2 linked regions of the Homo sapiens genome follow. The protein of the gene in region 2 purifies or fractionates together with the protein of the main gene of each other region. This does not show direct contact. Each region holds a gene or a part of one and is shown on either strand. Other genes may lie near its edges.

The links.
Region 1: the proteins of GPR3 (region 2) and DMWD purify together in Homo sapiens (affinity purification with mass spectrometry; 3 studies listed by BioGRID and IntAct, with this or other methods). This does not show direct contact.

What each region holds. Positions count from the first base shown.
Region 1 is NC_000019.10:45,788,151-45,797,716, forward strand, and holds the start of DMWD (dystrophia myotonica WD repeat-containing protein), read right to left. Parts: upstream 4,696-9,566; 5' UTR 4,607-4,695; coding exon 4,166-4,606; intron 2,938-4,165; coding exon 2,755-2,937; intron 1-2,754. Other genes in the region: RSPH6A (radial spoke head protein 6 homolog A), read right to left, coding at 7,719-7,956. UniProt on the Homo sapiens protein: Regulator of the deubiquitinating USP12/DMWD/WDR48 complex. Functions as a cofactor that promotes USP12 enzymatic activity.
Region 2 is NC_000001.11:27,387,355-27,396,682, reverse strand, and holds GPR3 (G-protein coupled receptor 3), read right to left. Parts: upstream 4,062-9,328; 5' UTR 3,946-4,061; intron 2,890-3,945; 5' UTR 2,885-2,889; coding exon 1,892-2,884; 3' UTR 869-1,891; downstream 1-868. UniProt on the Homo sapiens protein: Constitutively active G-protein coupled receptor that maintains high 3'-5'-cyclic adenosine monophosphate (cAMP) levels that a plays a role in serveral processes including meiotic arrest in oocytes or neuronal development via activation of numerous intracellular signaling pathways.

The sequences.
Region 1 (9,566 bases), on a different chromosome or scaffold from region 2:
GCAATGCTGTGTGACTGGCCTCAGGCTCCAATGCCTGGGCCTGTCTGTCCTCTGCAGCCGCCACAGCGATGCTCTGTGAAGTATCAGCCAGCACCTGGCACTGTCCTGCTCTGAACACTTCGCAGCCTCTCTCAAGCAGGGTTCCAGAGCCTGAGGCCCTAATGCTCTCAGGCAGCCAGTGTATGCAACTAAGGAGCTGCTCTCCCAGGATGAGGTGCCTCCCATCCCTGGGAGAACTGAACAAATAATCACTCTAGTCACTTCTGCCTTCCAGGGCTCAGGTGAGCCCCAATGAGAAAGGCTCCTCCACAGGCTTCCAACTAAGAGTAAGGCAAAATCTCTCCGTGACCTTCCAGACTCTCCATGAGCCAGCCCCTCCGTTATTTCTTGGAACTCATCTACCATCTTCTCTCCCTCAGTAACTGCACTGGCCACACGGCTTCTGTGCAATCCTGCATTTGTCCTAGCTGGCCCCGATACTCAGAATGTCCTTCTTGGCTGGGTGTGATGGCTCACGCCTATAATCCCAGCGCTTTGGGAGGCCAAAGCAGGAGAATAGCTTGAGCCCAGGAGTTCGAGACCAGCTTGGGCAACACAAAGAGACCCCGCCTCTACAAAAAATACAAAAGTTAGCCAGTTGTGGTGGTGCATGCATGTAGTCCCAGCTACTCAGGAGGCTGATATGGGAGGACTGCTTGAGCCTGGGAGGCGGAGGTTGCAGTGAACGAAGATCGTACCACTGCACTCCAGCATGGACGACAGAGTGAGACCCTATCTCAGGAAAAAAAAAAAAAAAAATGCCCTTCCCCAGGCAACTCTTCTCACCTGCCTCCTTCAGGTCTTTATTTCAGTATCACCTCTTAGTGAGGGCTTTCCTGACCACCCTACTAAACTCTCCAAGCTTCCCTCAGCCCCTTCCCCACTGCTTCTTCTAAACAGGCCTTAATCACCTGCTGACACACGAAGACTTAACTTGATTAACTGTCTGTCTCCCCAGCTAGACTGAAAGCTCCAAAAGGGCAGGGCCTCCTGTCCAGGGCCCTGAGATGTGATATCCCTAGTGCTGGGAACGGTGCCTGGCACAGAACGGATGCTCAAAAACTATTTGTGAATGGATGAGCTAATGAATTTTTAATCCACTGACTGTTCCGTTCACTCCCTTCAGCCATTCACTCATTCTGAGAATATTTATGGAACACCTCCTCTGGACCAGAGAGAATGAGACAGAAGCCAAGAGCAGTCCCTGCCCGCGGATAAGGTCGTTTACTGGTATCTCCTCGTAGGCCAAGTTGGCCCAGGACTGAGCAATCTCCATGTATGATTCTACAACAGCGGTCCTGCAAGGTAGGAACTGGAATCCCATTTTGCAGAGGAGGAGAAGTGAGGCTCAGAGAATGGTCACCTTCCCAAAGTCACATGATGAGTAAATGGTGCAGCAGGGCTTTGAATCCAAAGCCTCCAGAGCCCAGAACTCAAAGAGCAAGGGCATCAACTAAGTCCCGACTTATTTACTAGCCTCAATTCTCTAATCTGCAAAATGGGCAGCACACTTCTGTATCCACTGGTTGATGAAAACTCAAAGAATGGCCGGGCGCGGTGGCTCATGCCTGTAATCCCAGCACTTCGGGAGGCCGAGGTGGGCGGATCACAAGGTCAGGTGTTTGAGACCAGCCTGGCCAACATGGTGAAACCCCATCTCTACCAAAAATACAAAAATTGGCCGGGTGTGGTGGCTCACGCCTTTAATTCCAGCACTTTGGGAGGCCGAGGCGGGCAGATCACGAGGTCAGGAGATCGAGACTATCCTGACTAACACGGTGAAATCCCGTCTCTACTAAAAATACAAAAAAATTAGCTGGGCGTGGTGCTGGGCGCCTGTAGTCCCAGCTGCTGGGGAGGCTGAGACAGAAGAATGGCGTGAACCCGGGAGGCAGAGGTTGCAGTGAGCCGAGATCGCGCCACTGCACTCCAGCCTGGGCGACAGAGCGAGACTCCATCTCAAAAAAAAAAATTAGCCAGGTATGATAGTGCGCACCTGTAGTCCCAGCTACTCAGGAGGCTGAGGCAGGAGAATTGCTTGAACCTGGGAGGCGGAGGTTGCAGTGACCCGAGATTGTACCACTGCACTCCAGCCTGGGCGACAGAGTGAGACTCCGCCTTAAAAAGAAAAAAAAAATTAAAAACAATAAAAATTACAATTACAATTAAAAAAAAAAAAAAGAACCGGGCATGGTGGCTCACACCTGTAATCCCACCACTTTGGGAGGCCGAGGTGGGCAGATCACGAGGTCAGGAGATCGAGACCATCCTGACTAACACGGTGAAACCCCATCTCCACTAAAACTACAATAAATTAGGCGGGCGTGGCAGCAGGTGCCTGAAGTCCCAGCTACTCAGGAGGCTGAGGCAGGAGAATGGCATGAACCCGGGAGGTGGATCTTGCAGTGAGCAGAGATCGCGCCACTGCACTCCAGCCTGGGTGACAGGGTGAGACTCCATCTCAAAATAAATAAATAAAAGAAAGAAAGAAAGAAAGAAAACCCAAGGAGTAAAGTATTCAGCACAAGGGTAACACAGCACAGGGCCTGGGTACAGTAAAGGCAGCTGTCATTAGCTGCTGTCACCCCATTCTCCATCTCTCCCTGGTCCTGCCCCTCTCAGGCCTACACTGTTCCGCAGGCAGCTGCATCCTAATGGCATATAGTGGGTAGGTGAGAAGGCAGAGAAGTTGGGGGCTCTGGGGGCTGCAATCACCTCCTCATTGAACAGCTTGCTGGTGTCCTTTTTGATGAGATCCAGGTACTGCACTTGACCCGCTGAGAAGCCCACCAGCAGCGAGATGGTCTCGGTGGCAGCAGTGAACTGGTTGAAATCGTGGCAGGTGGGCTGGGTGCCCTTGTAGATCCGCTTGTCAATTGGCTTGTTGAGGTCAATGGACTTGAGGGGTGGGAGAAAAGGAGTTAATGGTGTATGCCACTGAGGAGAAGGAAGAGGATGTTGAGGTTGGGGGAAACCACTAAGAGGAAGCAGGGTTAGAACCCAGAGGGAAGTGGGGAGGTGAGTAGGTGGATTGCGAAGGACGGGGCAACCACAGACGGGAAGGGGACCCAAATCACAGACAAGAGTAGCAAAAAAGATGGTAAGGATCCCCCTTGACCACAGTGCCTCCCCAAAGTTGGGTCACCTCTAATTCAGAGACACCCTTGTCCACATAATCAGGGTTCTGGGTCCACACAGTTCCTAAGCTCCGATTCCTTTTAGCCTCACCACTCCATCCTATAACCTCAGCAACTCCCTTGGGACCTAGTACCACACTATTCCAAGACCCCCAAACCTTGAGGTCACCCAAATTTCCAGGACTCTAAAGCCTAACATCCTAGCATTCTCTTCACTTTGTAGTCCCTAAACCGCCACAGTTCTGGGACCCGTCAAACCTCACGGTCTCCCACATTTTAGGCCCATTTATTACCTAGGGGCTCCGAAGGATCCCCATCATTTCTGGGATCACCATAAACGGCCAGGGTTCTCACCACATCGCTTTAGAGATGTCCTGAATCACACCTGCAGATTCCCCTGCCAGGGCCTCTCATTCCCTTGAGAGCTCCCATCAGCTTCCGGACGCTCATCTCCTCCAGGACCCTCATGACTTCCAGACCCCAATTTTCTCTAGAATCCCATTCAGCTTCTGGATCCCCTATCACCTTCAAGGCCCCCATCACTTCTAGACTTCTCCTCATTCCTGGGCTCAATCTCAAGACCCCTCTCCCACACCTCCAGGCTGCAATACTGGGTTCTCCATCACCTCTGGGCTTGCATCACCTCATGATTCCCCATTACCTGCAGAATGCCTGCCACCCCAGAACCCGGGGGATCCCACCTCATCTCAGATACCCCATCATGTCCAATAGTCACCATCCCAGAACTCCTACGCATAACGGGGGTAAAGGGGATTTCCCCCATCACCTCCAAGATGCCTGCCCAGCACCCCGCGGGCCTCTCATCACATTTCAGAATCCTGTACTCCCTCCAATGCTGTCGCCCTACAACGTCCATCACATTTAGAATGCCTATCTCAGGGCCCCATATCAATTCGGGGACCCTCCTATCAGTTCTCTGGAACCTCCATCCTTTCAGCACCCAGGGCCCCACGATGCAGGCCGCTCACCCGTTGGCTCCCACGACGACAGCAGCCTGGGTAGAAATAGAGCTCACGGCCCAAGTTGAAGCAGACGCGGTCTCCCCCCGAGCCCAGCCCCGCGGGCGTGGCGGGCGGCTCCCCGGCCCCGGCGCTGTCCGGCTCCCCGAGGCGCACGAGGCTGAGGCGCACGGCGGGCAGGGCGGGCCCGGGTCCGGGGCCTGCGGGCGGCGGGGACGACGCGGGGCCTGCAGCGCCGGGACCGGAGGCGGAGGCAGGGCCGGGCGGGGGCTGCGGTGGCTGAGGCGGCACCGGAGTCTGGGCGGAAGCCGGACCCGACCTGCGAGCGGCGCCGTCGCCCGGGAGTAGCTTGTAGAAACCCTCGCGCGTGCGGAATTGCGACTTAATCTCCGCGCAGTCCCCCATGGCGGCGCCGGGGCCCGAGCCGCCCTCCGCGCCGCCCGCCGCCATCTTGGGCGCCCCCCGGGCCCCGCCACTGCCGGACTGCCGCCCGCAGCCGGGCCCCCTCCCGGAAGCCGCTGGCCCGCGCCGGAAAAGGTGGGGTCGTCGCCCGGGCAACGCCTCTTCGATTGGCACCCAGATCCGGAGGCGGGACGAATCCCCGCGGTCGCTCGGGTAACGGTGCTGGGACTGTGGGCGGGGCGAGAAGGTGGGCGCGGCCTTTGAGCCTGTGACCGACTTGTGGTTGGCTGCGGGGGCGGAGCCCGCAATGGAAAGAGGCGTGGCCAGTTAGAAAGCTCAAGTCCTTAGCAACCGCGCCCTGGGAACGTTTGCCTAGCAACGGAGGGATTTTTTTTTTTTTTTCCCCCACGACAAAGAAGCCCTCATCCATAGTCCAGCCTTCCCATGAAGTCACAGCCAACCCCAAGTGACCCTGGTCTCTCCTTAGACGCCCAATATACACTCCCCTGACCTCCAGTGTTTCCCACTGACATATTCAAATCCCTGAATGACCACAGCATCTGCTACCATTCTTCCCCACCCTTGGTGACCCACCAAATCCCTGTGTCCCCACACAACTCAGAGGACTTCCTCTGACCCACTATTGATTAATGCTAACTCCAAACATCCTTCATATTTTCCACCAACCTCCAATGTATATTTCCATGATTTTCTTATTTTCAACAACCTCACTTGTCCTCCAAAACCTACCTCTGATTCCCAAATTGTATTGATCCCCACGGTGCCCCAGTGTCCCAGTGATCCACTCGTAACCCAAAGTCTCCCCCTGATCCCAACAGCTCCTACTCATAGCCAGTGCTCCCCATGTCTGCTGAAGCCACCCAGCCCCATCATAGATCTTTCTAGTCTCATGTAGTCAATGGCCTCTACGATTTCTCCCTAGAGTGTCCCAAGGGCATCTCACACTTAAAAAAAAAAATCCTACAATGGTTCGGGCATGGTGGCTCATGCCTGGAATCCGAGAATCCCAGCACTTTGGGAGGCTGAGGTGGGAGGATCGTTTGAGCCCAGGAGATCAAGACTGCTATGAATTCACATCACTGCACTAAAGCCTGGGGGACAGAGTCAGACTCAGTCTCTCTAAAAAAAAAAAAAAAAGAAAGAAAAAAGAATCCTACAATGAAATTGACGTCTTACACCAAATCCTCCACCTCTCTTGCATCCCCACCTTAGGGCTAGCTCTGCCGTCCACTCAGTCAACCAGGCCACAGACCTGGGTGTCTTCCTAGATGTGTACCATTTATCTTCACTCTGCCCCCGCTTACAGCCTCCAAGTCTTTTGCATTCGACCACGTGGAATTCCTCTTTCTCAGTTCCTTGTTCTCCCTGATCCAAGCTTCTCCTCTACCCAAGCCCTTCCCCCACCCCCACATCAACCGTGTCTCTTGGTCTCCCAGATTTCTGTCTCACCCCCACTTCCACCTTTCACTTGGCATGTAGAGAGGTTTTATTTTGTTTTTGTTTTTGTTTTTTTTGAGACAGTCTCACCCTGTCACCCAGGCTGGAGTGCAATGGCTCCATCTCGGCTCAGAGACGGGGTTTCACCATGTTGGCCAGTCTGGTCTCGAACTCCTGACCTCAGGTGATCCACCCACCTCGGCCTCCCAAAGTGCTGGGAGTACAGGCATGAGCCACTGCACCCGGCTTTTTTTTTTTTTTTTTTTTTTTTTGAGACAGAGTCTCGCTCTTGTCACGTGGGCTGGAGTGCAATGGGACGATTTTGGCTCACTGCAACCTCTGCCTCCTGGGTTCAAGTGATTCTCCTGCCTTAGCCTCCTGAGTGGCTGGGATTACAGGCACCTGCCACCACACCCAGCTACTTTTTTGTAGTTTTAGTAGAGACGGGGTTTCACCATGTTGGGCATGCTGGTCTCAAACTCCTGACCTCAGGTGATCCGCCAACCTTGGCCTCCCTAAGTGCTGGGATTACATGTGTGACCCACTGCACTAGGCCTAGAGAGGTCTTTCTAAAGCATGAATATGATCAGGGCCCTCCCCTGCTCAAAACCCATCTGTAGCTCCCTAGTGCTCTCAGGGGAAAGTTAAGCCCCAAGTGATCTGGCCCCTGCCAACCTCTTTTCAATCTCATATCTCACCACTAACTCCTCACACTATCCACCACCTAAAATGAGGCTTGAAAAACTACCCCAACATATCACACTCTCTCTTGTCCTTGGGTCTTTGCACATTCTGTTCCCTATTCTTGGAATGCCTTTCCCCATTCTTTTCTTGACCCTTTAAGAGTTGGCTCGGGAGCTCTGTCAGTCCTCTGGGCTTCCCCATTTGGGCTGTCACTGTCTGGAAATGAGTCTCTCTCCCTATAGTGTTGTGAGGTCCAGGAAGGCAGGACTGCAGCTGTCTGTGTCCCCAGCACAGGGGTGGGCTGACAGGAGGTATTTCAATAATGGTTTGATGGCTAGGTAAATGAATAAATAAAACAGGTGGGGCTGGTCGCGGTGGCTCACAGCTGTATCCTAACACTTTGGGAGGCCAAGACAGGCAGATCGCTTGATGCCAGGAGTTCAAGACCAGCTTGGGCAACATAAACCCCATCTCATAGTGAGACTCTGAAAAATTGAAAAAATTTAGCTGGGCATGGTGGGCTGTGCCTGCAGTCCTAGTTACTCAGGACCCTGTCTCTACAAAAAATACAAAAATTAGTGTATGTGGTGATGTGCACCTGCGGTCTCAGCTACTCCGGAGGCTGAGATGGGAGGACTGCTTGAGCCCAGGAGGTCAAGGCTGCAGGGAGCTGAGATTGTGCCACTGTACTCTAACCTGGGTGACAGAATGAGACCCTGTCTCAAACAACAACAACAAAAACCAAACAGGTGGGAGAGACTCTGCCAGGCAATGTCTGTGCTCTCTGCAGGGCCCAACAGCCCTGGCTTGGAGTCCATGTCAACAGAGGTGGTGAACAAATGAATGAATGGCTCATCCATAATGCCGTGGAGGAATTTTATTTGAAGCAGTTGCCTTCCTTTTCTATCCCTGCCCTCTGGGGACAGGAAGCACATAGTGAAAATATAATCCATGCTAACTACCTCTAAGGGGAAATTTGCTATCTACCTGCTTGGGGAAAGTGGCTAGAGGGTGGGCCTCAGTCATCTGTCTCCTCGCCCTCCTCCTCCTCCTCGCCCTCCTCCTCCTCCTCTGTGGCTCCCAGGGCTTGTTCCTGGGCTGCTTTCAGAGCCTGCTCCTCTTCCACTGTGGGGTCACTCATCTCCATGATCTCTGGGCCACTGGGGTACTCTTGTTGAATGGGGGCTGGCAGGGCCGGGTTGAAGCTCTCGGGGCTGTACTTGTGACCCCAGCCGATGTAGATGTTCTCAAACTTTCTGGAGAAGCAGTGAGACACTGTGAAATTCTCCCTCAAAGGCCCCAGACTTGACTTTTTTTTTTTTTTTTTTGAGATGGAGTCTTACTCTGTTGCCTAGTGCAGTGGTGTGATCTCGACTTACTGCAACCTCTGCCTCCCAGGTTCAAGCGATTCTCCTGCCTCAGCCTCCCATGTAGCTGGGACTACAGGCACGCGTCACTACGCCCAGCTAATTTTTGTATTTTTGGTAGAGATGGGGTTTCACCATGTTGGCCAGTGTGGTCTGGAACTCCTGACCTCATGATCTGCCCGCCTCGGCCTCCCAAAGTGCTGGGATTACAGACGTGAGCCACCGCACCTGGCCAGCCTTGACTTTCTTTAAGGGTAGGACCCAGCATGTGCATAGCATGACTGCAAAGTTGTGGATGGCAGGGTGAAATGTGCTCACTGGGTTCCTCTGTATTACCCAGGCTGGATGCAAACTCCACCTCCTGGGTTCACTGCAAAATCTGCCTCCTGGGTTCAAGTGATTCTCCCACCTCAGCTTCCCAAGTAGCTGGGACTACAGGCACACACCACCTCGCCCAGCTAATTTTTATATTTTTAGTAGAGACGGGGTTTCACCATGTTAGCCAGGCTGGTCTCAAACTCCTGACCTCAAGTGATCTGCCTGCCTCAGCCTCCCAAAGTGCTGGGATCACAGGCATGAGCCACCATGCCTGGCCTAATTTTTGTATTTTTAGTAGAGAGGGGGTTTCATCATGTTGGCCAGGCTGGTCTTGAACTCCTGACATCAAGTGATCTGCCGCCTCCACCTCCCAAAGTTTAAAAATTAGCCAGTTGCAGTAGCACGTACCTGTGGTTCCAGCTACTGGGGAGGCTGAGGGGGGAGGATTGCCGGAGCCCAGGAGTTTGAGGCTGCAGTAAGTTGTGATCATGCCACTGCACTCCAGCCTGAGTGACAGAGTGAGAACGTATCTCAAAATAAATCAAGAAATAAGTAACTAGGCTGGACGCAGTGGCTCACGCCTGCAATCCCAGCACTTTGGGAGGCCGAGGCGGGCGGATCACAAGGTCAGGAGATCGAGACCAGCCTAGCTAACACGGTGAAACCCCGTCTCTACTAAAAATACAAAAACAAAATCAGTGGGGCGTGGTGGCAGGCGCCTGTAGTCCCAGCTGCTGGGGAGGCTGAGGCAGGAGAATGGCGTGAACCCTGGGAGGCGGAGCTTGCAGTGAGCCAAGATCGCGCCACTGCACTCCAGCCTGGGTGACAGAGTGAGACTCTGTCTCAAAAAAAAAAAAAAGAAATAAGTAACTAAAAATAACAAAAAAAATTAAATTATATATGTGGCTCATATTTTATTTATGTGAGACATAATTTTATGTTGGATATCAATTTATTTATATTGTGACACTTTATTTATGTCCAACATATCATGTGGGACATAAATAAAATTGTCTAGGTGCTGGGGACACAGCAGTAAACAAACTAGACAAAACTCCCTGCCAGGTGCGGTGGTTCAGGCCTGTAATCCCAGCACTTTAGGAGGCCGAGGTAGGAGGATCAACTGAGGTCAGGGGCTCGAGACCACCCTGGTGAAACCACATCTCTACAAAAAATACAAA
Region 2 (9,328 bases):
CACAGCACAGATTCTGGAAACAGATGTTCCTGGCTCTACCATTTTTTAGCTGTATGGCCTTGGGCCAGCTGCTGTCCCTCACTCAGCCTCAGCTCCCTCGTTTGTAAAATGGAGAAGACACTACCGGTGCCATGGGATGCTTATTAGGCATAAGCGAGGTAGCATGTGTGCCAGACACACAGTAGGCACCCATGATTAGAAGGACCTATTATTGGCCAGACGCGTTGGCTCACGCCTGTAATCCCAGCACTTTGGGAGGCTGAGACGGGTGGATCACGAGGTCAGGAGATCGAGACCATCCTGGCTTACACAGTGAAACCCCGTCTCTACTAAAAATACAAAAAAAATTAGCCGGGCGTGATGGTGGGCGCCTGTAGTCCCAGCTACTCGGGAGGCTGAGGCAGGAGAATGGCGTGAACCCGGGAGGTGGAGCTTGCAGTGAGCCGAGATCACGCCACTGCACTCCAGCCTGGGGGACAGAGCGAGACTCTGTCTCAAAAAAAAAAAAAAAAAAAAAAAAAGTAGGACCTATTATTATTAAGGAAACTGACATGCTTTGAGCATATTCATCATGTCTAAGCCCCACAGTGGCCGGTGTGGGCAGGATGTGAGCATCCTTGACCCAGGAAGAGCCAAGCACCCAGGTTCCTGTCACCAGGAGGAGGTAAGGTCCTTGCCAGTCAGTGCCCAGGTCTGAGCAGAGGGGCACTGACATCTGAGAAGGAGTCACCTGCCAGCCACCCTCCACCCTCTGTCCAGCTCCCCAGATCCCCCAACAGGCCCCCCAGGCCTGGCTTGACCCTCTCATTCCAGGCCATCCCCCATCAGGCCCCACTCCATACCCTCCACACACACATAGGGAAACATATTTATGACAAAATCATTTTTTATTGAGTTGGGTTGGAGACGGGAACAGGGAATGCACTGGGGGCCATACCCCGGTTGGCAGAGGGGTGGGGTGTTGGCTCGTGCCCCCCCTCCTTTAGGGCACCGCAGGGTGAGGCTTGGCCCCCAGGCCATGGCTGTGGCCCTGGACGCCAGGCTGGAGTGGAGCTGGGGTTGCATTCTGGTCCCAGCTGCCTGGCCGGGCTGCAGTTTTCCCCAAATGGCCACCAGAGGGCAGTCGGACCCCAGCGCAGAGGAATTTTTGGTTGCTCAGGTGATGGCTTCTTAAAAAAATAAAAAACCAGAGGCTGGTGTGTTCCCCTTCCAAACCCGAGGAGGGCAGGCCTGGGGAGAAGGCTCTGGTTTCTATGATCTCTTCGATAAAAAATAATCCAAAATAATAACAAAATACGTGGTTTCTCTTTCACCCTTTCCCCCCTCCAGGAACTGAGGTCAGAAATGGGGGTGAAGGGACAAGGGATACCCTGGTATGGCCTGGATATCAAGGTGTGGGCCTCTTTTTTGCCCCTTACCACCCATAAGTAAATTTATAAATAAATAAATCAATCATAAATAGACACTGTCTTTGTATATGTGCATATATAATCTTTCTCTCTCCTATTTAGGCAACTATGTGACTAATCTCTCTGACTCTTTAGCTCAGAAATTCAAACATAAAGTGACATGGTCAAGGTCAAGTTTGGGGGAAGAGGGACATCTGGGACTTGGAATGGCACTGTAAAACTCCCAGCATTCTGGAATTGCAACCCAGCTGGGCTGTGAGACATTTCTGAGTAGAACACTGACCACCTGAACATTCTGGAACCGTGGAGCCAGCTGGGCCCCCATAGGGATCTGAACAGAACCTTGAAACACCCAATGTCCTAGAACTCCAGAACCAGCTGGGTCTGGGGGGTGTGGAGCTGGGGGTTTGGAAAGAAGCCCTGGAGAGCCTAACATTCTGGAATTCTGTAGTAATCAGGGTTGAAGGGTCATGAAGACTCAGCTAGACATCACTGGGGGAGCGGGATCGGAAGGGGATCTTGGAAGAGGAACAGCAGCAGCAGACAGCCCACAGCACTTTCTGCACATCCTGGTTGCGGAAGGCGTAGATGATAGGGTTGATCATGGAGTTGTAGGTGGCAGGGAGCAAGGTAAGATAGGTGTAGAGAGGTGGAGAGTGGGCATCACCCAGCAGGCAGTAGACAGTGAAGGGCAACCAGCAGGCGGCAAAGGCTCCAAGCACCACGGCCAGTGTGGCAATGCCCTTGCGGGTGGCCACATAGTGGGAGGCAGGCAGCAGGTGCCGCTGAAGGGCAATCTGCTGGGCATGGCGGCAGACGATGCGGCAGATTTGGGCGTAGAGCTGCAGCATGATGCCAAACACCATGAAGAAGGCAATGGCCAGAACTACCAGATGGTTCTTGGAGAGTGGATAAACCACGCCACATGTGGTCAGGCCATCCAGGCAGTTCCAGGCCAGCACAGGCAGCAGCCCCAGGCCCAGGGCACCTCCCCACACTAAGGCCAGCATCACATAGGTCCGTGTCACTGTTGTCTCTGAATAGTAGGTGAGGGCATTGTACAGAGAAAGGTAGCGGTCGACAGTGATGGCCAGTAGACTGCCGATGCTGGCGGTAAAGGCCATTGCCAGCACGCCAACCAGCACCAGGCTCATCTCCGCTGAGCCGATGCAGAAGACAGCAGCAAAGTGCAGGACCAGGCCCAGGCCTGCCAGCAGGTCTGCCACGGCCAGGCTGCCCACCAGCAGGAACATGGGGGCACGGAAGGCAGGAGTGCCCACGATGATGGCCACCACTAGCGCATTCTCGCAGGACACCAGGGTGCCTGAGATGCAGAGCACCACATCCCAGGCCTTAGGCGAGGGCAGTGGTGCGGCTGGACCTGTGGGCCCCTCTGCTGGGCCCACGCTGCTTACATTCACGTTGCCTGAGCCAGCTGAGAGCCAGGCCAGAGGGCTGCCTGCACCCCACATCATGGTACCTGCAGGAGAAAGGCCTTGTGAGAAGCTGACCAAGCTGGGTGATGGGAGTTGGGGTCTGGAGGGGGTGAGGTGCTTCTCAGGATACGTGGTGGGAGTCTCTCCTCAGGATACCTGATAGGGTCCCAATGCCTTATCCCCACATTCATGCCCTGGGGCTCTTCCCAGGATACCGCTGTCCCCTCCAATGCCCCCAGGCCTCTAAACAGGGGTCTCTTCCTGGGGATCCCTGTCCTAGGTCCTGCAGGTCTCTTTTTCCCACGTGTGTGACCAGAGGAGAGACAGAAGAAGGGGTACTATAAGTGGAAGAGGGCCATAGGATCCAGGGGATGCCCCCGAAGGCTCAAGATTGGGGTAGGGAAACATCTACCCCATCAGGGAGACTGAGCAGCTCCGCTCCCTCCCATCAGAGATGATGATGCTAGCTCGTGCCTGAGGCTCCCAGACCCCTCACGATTTTCAGTACTGCCAGCCTTAGACTCCGCCCCCAGGGAATGCGCGTGAAGCTCCCGCCAGCCATCACCCCGCACTCCCGCGGTAACACCTGGGAACTCAGCCCCCCACCCCCCACCCTCCCAGACTTCTGTTCCTGGCTGGACCCTTCTTTCCGCCTGAATCTCTAGGTCTCTGGGCAGACCCCCCTGCTGGAAGACTGGATCCCTGAGTCAGATGCCTCCTTCTGCCCGGACACCTGGATTTTGGGCCTGACTCTGCCTCCTGCCTGGATACCTGGATTCCTAAATTGGACACCTCCTGCTGTTCGGACCCCTGGGTCCCTGCCCCAGACGCCTCCTGCCGGCTTAACCTCAGATGACCATCAGTCCCTCCAGGGCCTCGGGTCCCTGCAGGAATGCTTACCCTTCGCCGGGTCATCCAACTCAACCCCAGCACTCGAGCACTTGGGCCCAAGCCTGCTAACCCAGAATCGCCTAAACCCAGAATTCCCACCTCGAACTCGAACCCCGGCCGGCCACTAGGAGCCTTCCGCCGGCCCAGTGCCCCAGCATCCTGCGTGCCCTTCAGGACCCCTGGTGCCCGCGGCGGGGCCCGCTACTCACCGCTCAGGACCAGGCGCGGCCGGGCCGCGGGGAGGCTCCGCTCGGGTCCTGGCGGCGCAGGGCGTGCGTGGACCCCGAGAAGCCCCCGCGGCCGCGGGAGAAGCGGCGTGAGTCACCCCGCCCCGCCCCCGGCCACCGGTTCGGTGACGTCAGCGGTCCGATCAGCCAATGGGCGCGGCGCGCTGGGGCGCAGCGCGCGTTGCGCGGCATAGTAATAAGGCCTCGCACCGCCCGCTCCCCCATTCATAAAAAGCGACCGTGGCTGCGGCCCCGCCCCCTCCCGAGTCCGCCCGCGCTGTCCTTGACGCGGCGCCCTCTGCGGGCCGGGGGTTTCAGAGGCGCCGGTGCGAGAGCCTTGAAGTCTCAGAGAGGCTGCAGGGAACGTGGTGGAAGAGTGGAAAGGGGGCCCGGCTAGGCTGTGGGGTGATGGGACCCTTGGGTGGCAGAGAGGCTGACGAGATCCAGGTGACGAAGGAAGAGCTTGTGATGGGGCTGGTTGGGCTTCCCTGGTGAGAATGACAGGGTTTCCAAGATGATGGGGCCCTGAGGTGACGATGACAGGGAGCACGAGGGAGCGGGGAGGTGGGTGGCAGTGACGACATTAGCATGGTGACAGAATCTTGGGGTGGGGGGTGATGGCCGTGGGACGCTAACGGTAGAGGGGAAGCCCTCAGGGCAACCATGGCAGTGTCAGGGTGACTATGCAGCAGGGGGGAGTTCAGGGACCCCGGGATGGCAGAGGCAGCGGCCTGGGAACATGGAGTGTCCAGGTGACTTCAGGTCACCATTACCCTGTCAGAATGGCTGGGGTACTGAAGCGACAATGCTAAGCCATGAGGACTGTGGGGCCCTGGAACGAAGATAGCAGGTGGCTGTGGTGAGTGGGCTCCAGGGTGAGGGGCACAGGGTAGAGGGTCTGGACTGACAGTGACCAGGCAGGTAAGTTGCTGCCAGGGCAAGTCCCGTGATGCCGGGGCTGGGATAAGAGCTGGGTGACGTCACTCATGTCAGCCCAATAGCGCCCTCACAGCACCGGAGGGGTGGGCCTGGCAAGATTTCAAAACCTGAATTATTTATTCCAGTATCTAGAAAGCCAGCGTGGAGGGGGTGAGGGGTGCACTTCCCTGAAGCAGGAGGAGATGGGGAGCCGGGAAGAACTTGGAAGCAGAAAGCCTGGCAGCTCAGTCCTCAGGGCAGGCCCCTCTCAGCCTCCTATTTTAGGCATCCTGATGGGTGGAGCAAGGAGAAAGAGCTCCCTCTTCCCCAACGCCATCTGCCCTTAGTCCAGGGGAACCACTCTGGGCAGACTTCTCCAGATGTGACAGATGTGGCCAGTCCTGCGGCAGGGGGACTGGCTGCTCCTTCTCCCTGTGTCTCTTGCCTTGATGCTCCCTGGAATCATGCAGGCCTGTGGGAGGGGAAGATGAGGTTAAGAGGCCTGAGGATCCCAGGCCCCACTGGACACCCCCATCACAGCACCATCACTGCAGCCCCCATGGTCAGCCTCCACCAGGCAGGTTTTGGGTTTGAGTGTGAGGCAGCAGAAGGTCAAGTGGCAGGGAACATGGGAGGAGGAGGGGGTCGGAGCTGGAGAAGAGGATTCATTTCAGGTTGGATGTGGTGAGTTTAGGGGGCTTAGGGGGTGGAAGTGTCCAATCTCAGTTTCTCCATTTCCTAGCTGGGTGACTTTGGAGAGTTTCTTCAGCTCTCTGTGCCTATTTCCTCATCTAAAACACAGGGATAATATTAGTACCGGCCTCATGGGGTTGTTGAGTGGGTTCTACTTGCCATTGGCCATCAATGTTACAGCTGGATAATGAGGGACACCTGGGAGGTGTAGGCATGCAGGTGGCAACTGATGTTTTAGGGGTAAATAATGTCACCCAGGGGCGGGAGCAGAGAGTGAGGAGTGGCTTCAGGGGCTCCTCCTCCTGGGCTCTTGCACCTGACCCCTCTGACAACAACCCTTCTCTTCATCCAGGTCTCTGCTCCCGAATTACTTCTGAAACAGGCTGCTCTGAACTCTCAGATCGCCACTGGCCTCCCCATCACTCTCCCTCCCCTTCTCTTGATTTATTCATTTTTGGAGGATGAAGCACTCTTGAAATTATAAATGAATTCATGTTTGTTTGTTTTACTACATGTCAGCCCCACTAGAATCTAAGCTCCAAGAGGATACTGACTATGTCCCATTTCTGCTAGAGAACAGTGCCTGATATGTAATGGGTATTGAAGAAATAATCATGGACTGGATGATTGACCTAAAAGGGAACAACCAGAGGAAAAAAGGAAAACAGAGAGAATAGTAATATGCCTGGTGCCCAGGAAGGTGGGGGTGTCAGAGAGAGGATCCAAGGGCATCAGGGCCCCAAGACTCAGGGTCAGGGATCCATTTACTCCCCCATCAGAGCTGGGTCCCTACAGAGTTCTGGTCTCTGCGATGGGTGAAGGCTGCTGGGAGGTTGGCATCAAAGGGGGGTATCAGGGACTATCTTCTACTACTCTGAATGGCAATTATATATTTTTTAAGTTTTCGTAGCTTATTGATCCTCTGGTGAAAAATCTTCACCATTGCTGCAGATAAAGCCATTCCTGTTTGCCAGCACCAGCACCACACTCTTGTGACTCCCTGGCTGTCGTCATTCTGTTCTTGAGTTCCTTTAGCTGTTTTCTTGAGGTCTTTTTCTTTTATGTCTTGCAAGTCTGTGTTTGGATTAATTTTTCTTTGCATAATCCAAGGAATCATAAATCATAACCAAGCCAGTTGTCTTAACACCACCAAAATGGGTTCTGTCTTTTTTTTTCGTTTGTTTGTTTTTTGAGACAGGATCTCAGTCTGTCACCCAGGCTGGAGTGTAGTGGTGCAATCAATGCTCACTGTAGCCTCAACCTCTTGGACTCAAGCAATCCTCCCATCTCAGCCTCCACAGTAACTGGGATTACAAGCACGTGTCACCACGCCTGGCTAAGGCGTGTAATTTTTGTAGAGACAGGGTTTCGCCACATTGCCCAGGCTGGTCTTGAACTCGTAGGTTCAAGTGATCTGCCCACCTTGGCCTCCCAAAGTGCTGGGATTACAGGCATGAGCCACTGTGCCCAGCCCAAAATGGGTTCTAAATACAAAGATGAAATCCAGAGTGGTCTTCTACTTTTTGACTAGTTTTCTGTCTTAGGTATTGTTGTCTTCCCAGGGTGAAGGACACGGAAGACCATCATTTCCACTGAAGTATTGGTCATGAACTTCCTGATCCTGATAGTTATCCTGTTGTTTGCAAGGGAAGTTGATCCTAAGGCAGCCAGAGAGGAAAAGAGAGTGCAGTGACATTTCTTTTCTTTCCTTTTTTTTTTTTTTCCGAGACAGTTTTATTCTTGTTGCCCAGGCTGGAGTGCAGTGGTGCAATCTCGGCTCACTGAAACCTCTGCCTCCTGGGTTCAAGCGATTCTCCTGCCTCAGCCTCCCAAGTAGCTGGGATTACAGGTGCCCGCCACCATGCCCAGCTTTTTTTTTTTTTTTTTTTTTTGTATTTTTAGTAGAGACAGGGTTTTACCATATTGGTCAGGATGGTCTTGAACTCCTGACCTCAGGTGATCCACCCTGCTCAGCCTCCCAAAGTGCTGGGATTACAGGTATGAACCACCGCACCCGGCATGCAGTGACATTTCTAACCCCGAGAAACCCAGGAGAGCCAAGAGACTAAAGGGGGGCTATGGGTTTTCACGTGAACCTCATGTGCTCTCCCTCACGCACCAAAAGTGCTCATACCAATCAGGTCTCCATTCCCCGCATACTTGCTCTCTAAAGGAAGAGATAGTTCCTTCTCTCCTATTCTCCTCATGCCCTCTGTCCCTACCTCCTTGACACCTCCTCCAACCCTTCCCACCTACCAGGTGCCCAGCCAGAGCCCAAGGCTTACAACAACCTGCAAAAGTGAGGGACCATGTCTCCATTTCTTGGGTGAAGCCCAGGAAAGCCAAGGGACTTGCCCCAAATCACATAGTAAATGGCAGAGCTGGGATCTGAAGCCAGGTCCATCTGTCACCAAGTCCAGTGTGCCTTCCATTCTGGCCTAGATGTCACCTTCTTCCCAGAAGGGGCTGAGGCTAAAGTTTGACTAGGGCTGACAATACCTGCAGTTCTCCAGGTGGCCACCAGATGGCTGTGAGGACTCACTTCCAGGTGAGACTTTTATCCTTGCCTCTTCTGTCTTCACCAGTTGGAGAAATCCCTTGGGGAGGGAGGAATTGGCGGGGAGGGGGTGTTCGTGCGTGTGTGCTTGTGTGTGTGTGTGTGTGTCAGTCATAGATAATCCCCACACCTGAGTCCCTTGTCTAAGACCCAAGGGTCTAGGCATCATCAGTGCCCATATTCTTAGCATAGACCCATTCATTCAGCCATTATTTACTGGCAGTTCCCCTGGGCTTAGGGTTTGTTCAGTGGGTGCTAGGGACAGAAAGATGATCTGGCCAAATTCCTGCCTTTTCAACAGTCAATAGACACATTTATTGAGCATCTTCTATTTCCCGGGTACAGAGAATACAGCAGTGAACAAAAATCCCTGCCATCTTCAATGAGCTTCAGTTTTATTAATTAATTTATTTAGTTAGTTATTTTGAGACATAGTCTTGCTCTGTTGCCCAGGCTGGAGTGCAGTGGTGCAATCTCAGCTCACTGCAACCTCCGCCTCCCGGGTTCAAGCGATTCTCCTGCCTCAGCCTCCCGAGTAGCTGGGACTACAGATGCATGCCACCACGCCTGGCTAATTTTTGTATTTTTTAGTAAAGACAGGGTTTCACCATGTTGGCCAGGCTGGTCTCGAACTCCTGGCCTTAGGTGACCTGCCCACCTCGGCCTCCCAAAGTGCTGGGATTACAGGCATGAGCCACTGTGCCAGGCCAAGCTTCAGTTTTAATCTGGAGGGATGGACAATCTACAAATAGATCCTTAAAATCTATTCAAGTAGGGAGCTCTTGGGGGCCTCACAGACCAGTGGGACAAACATGTACACAGATGGTCACAACATGGCATAGTAAGTAAGGTTACTTAATAAACATCTGGCTGGGCATGGTGGCTCACGCCCATAATTCCTGCACTTTGGGAGGCCGAGGTGGGTGGATCACCTGAGGTCAGGCGTTCGAGACCAGCCTGGCCAACGTGATGAAATCCTGTCTCTACCACAAATGCAAAAAATTAGCCAGGCATAGTGGCAGGCACCTGTAATCCCAGCTACTCAGGAGGCTGAGGCAGGAGAATCACTTGAATCTGGGAGGCGGAGGTTGCAGTGAGCCGAGATCACCACTGCACTCCAGTCTGGGCAGCAAGAGCGAAACTCCGTCTCAACAAACAAACAAACAAAAACCCCAACATCTATTCAGCCCTTACTGT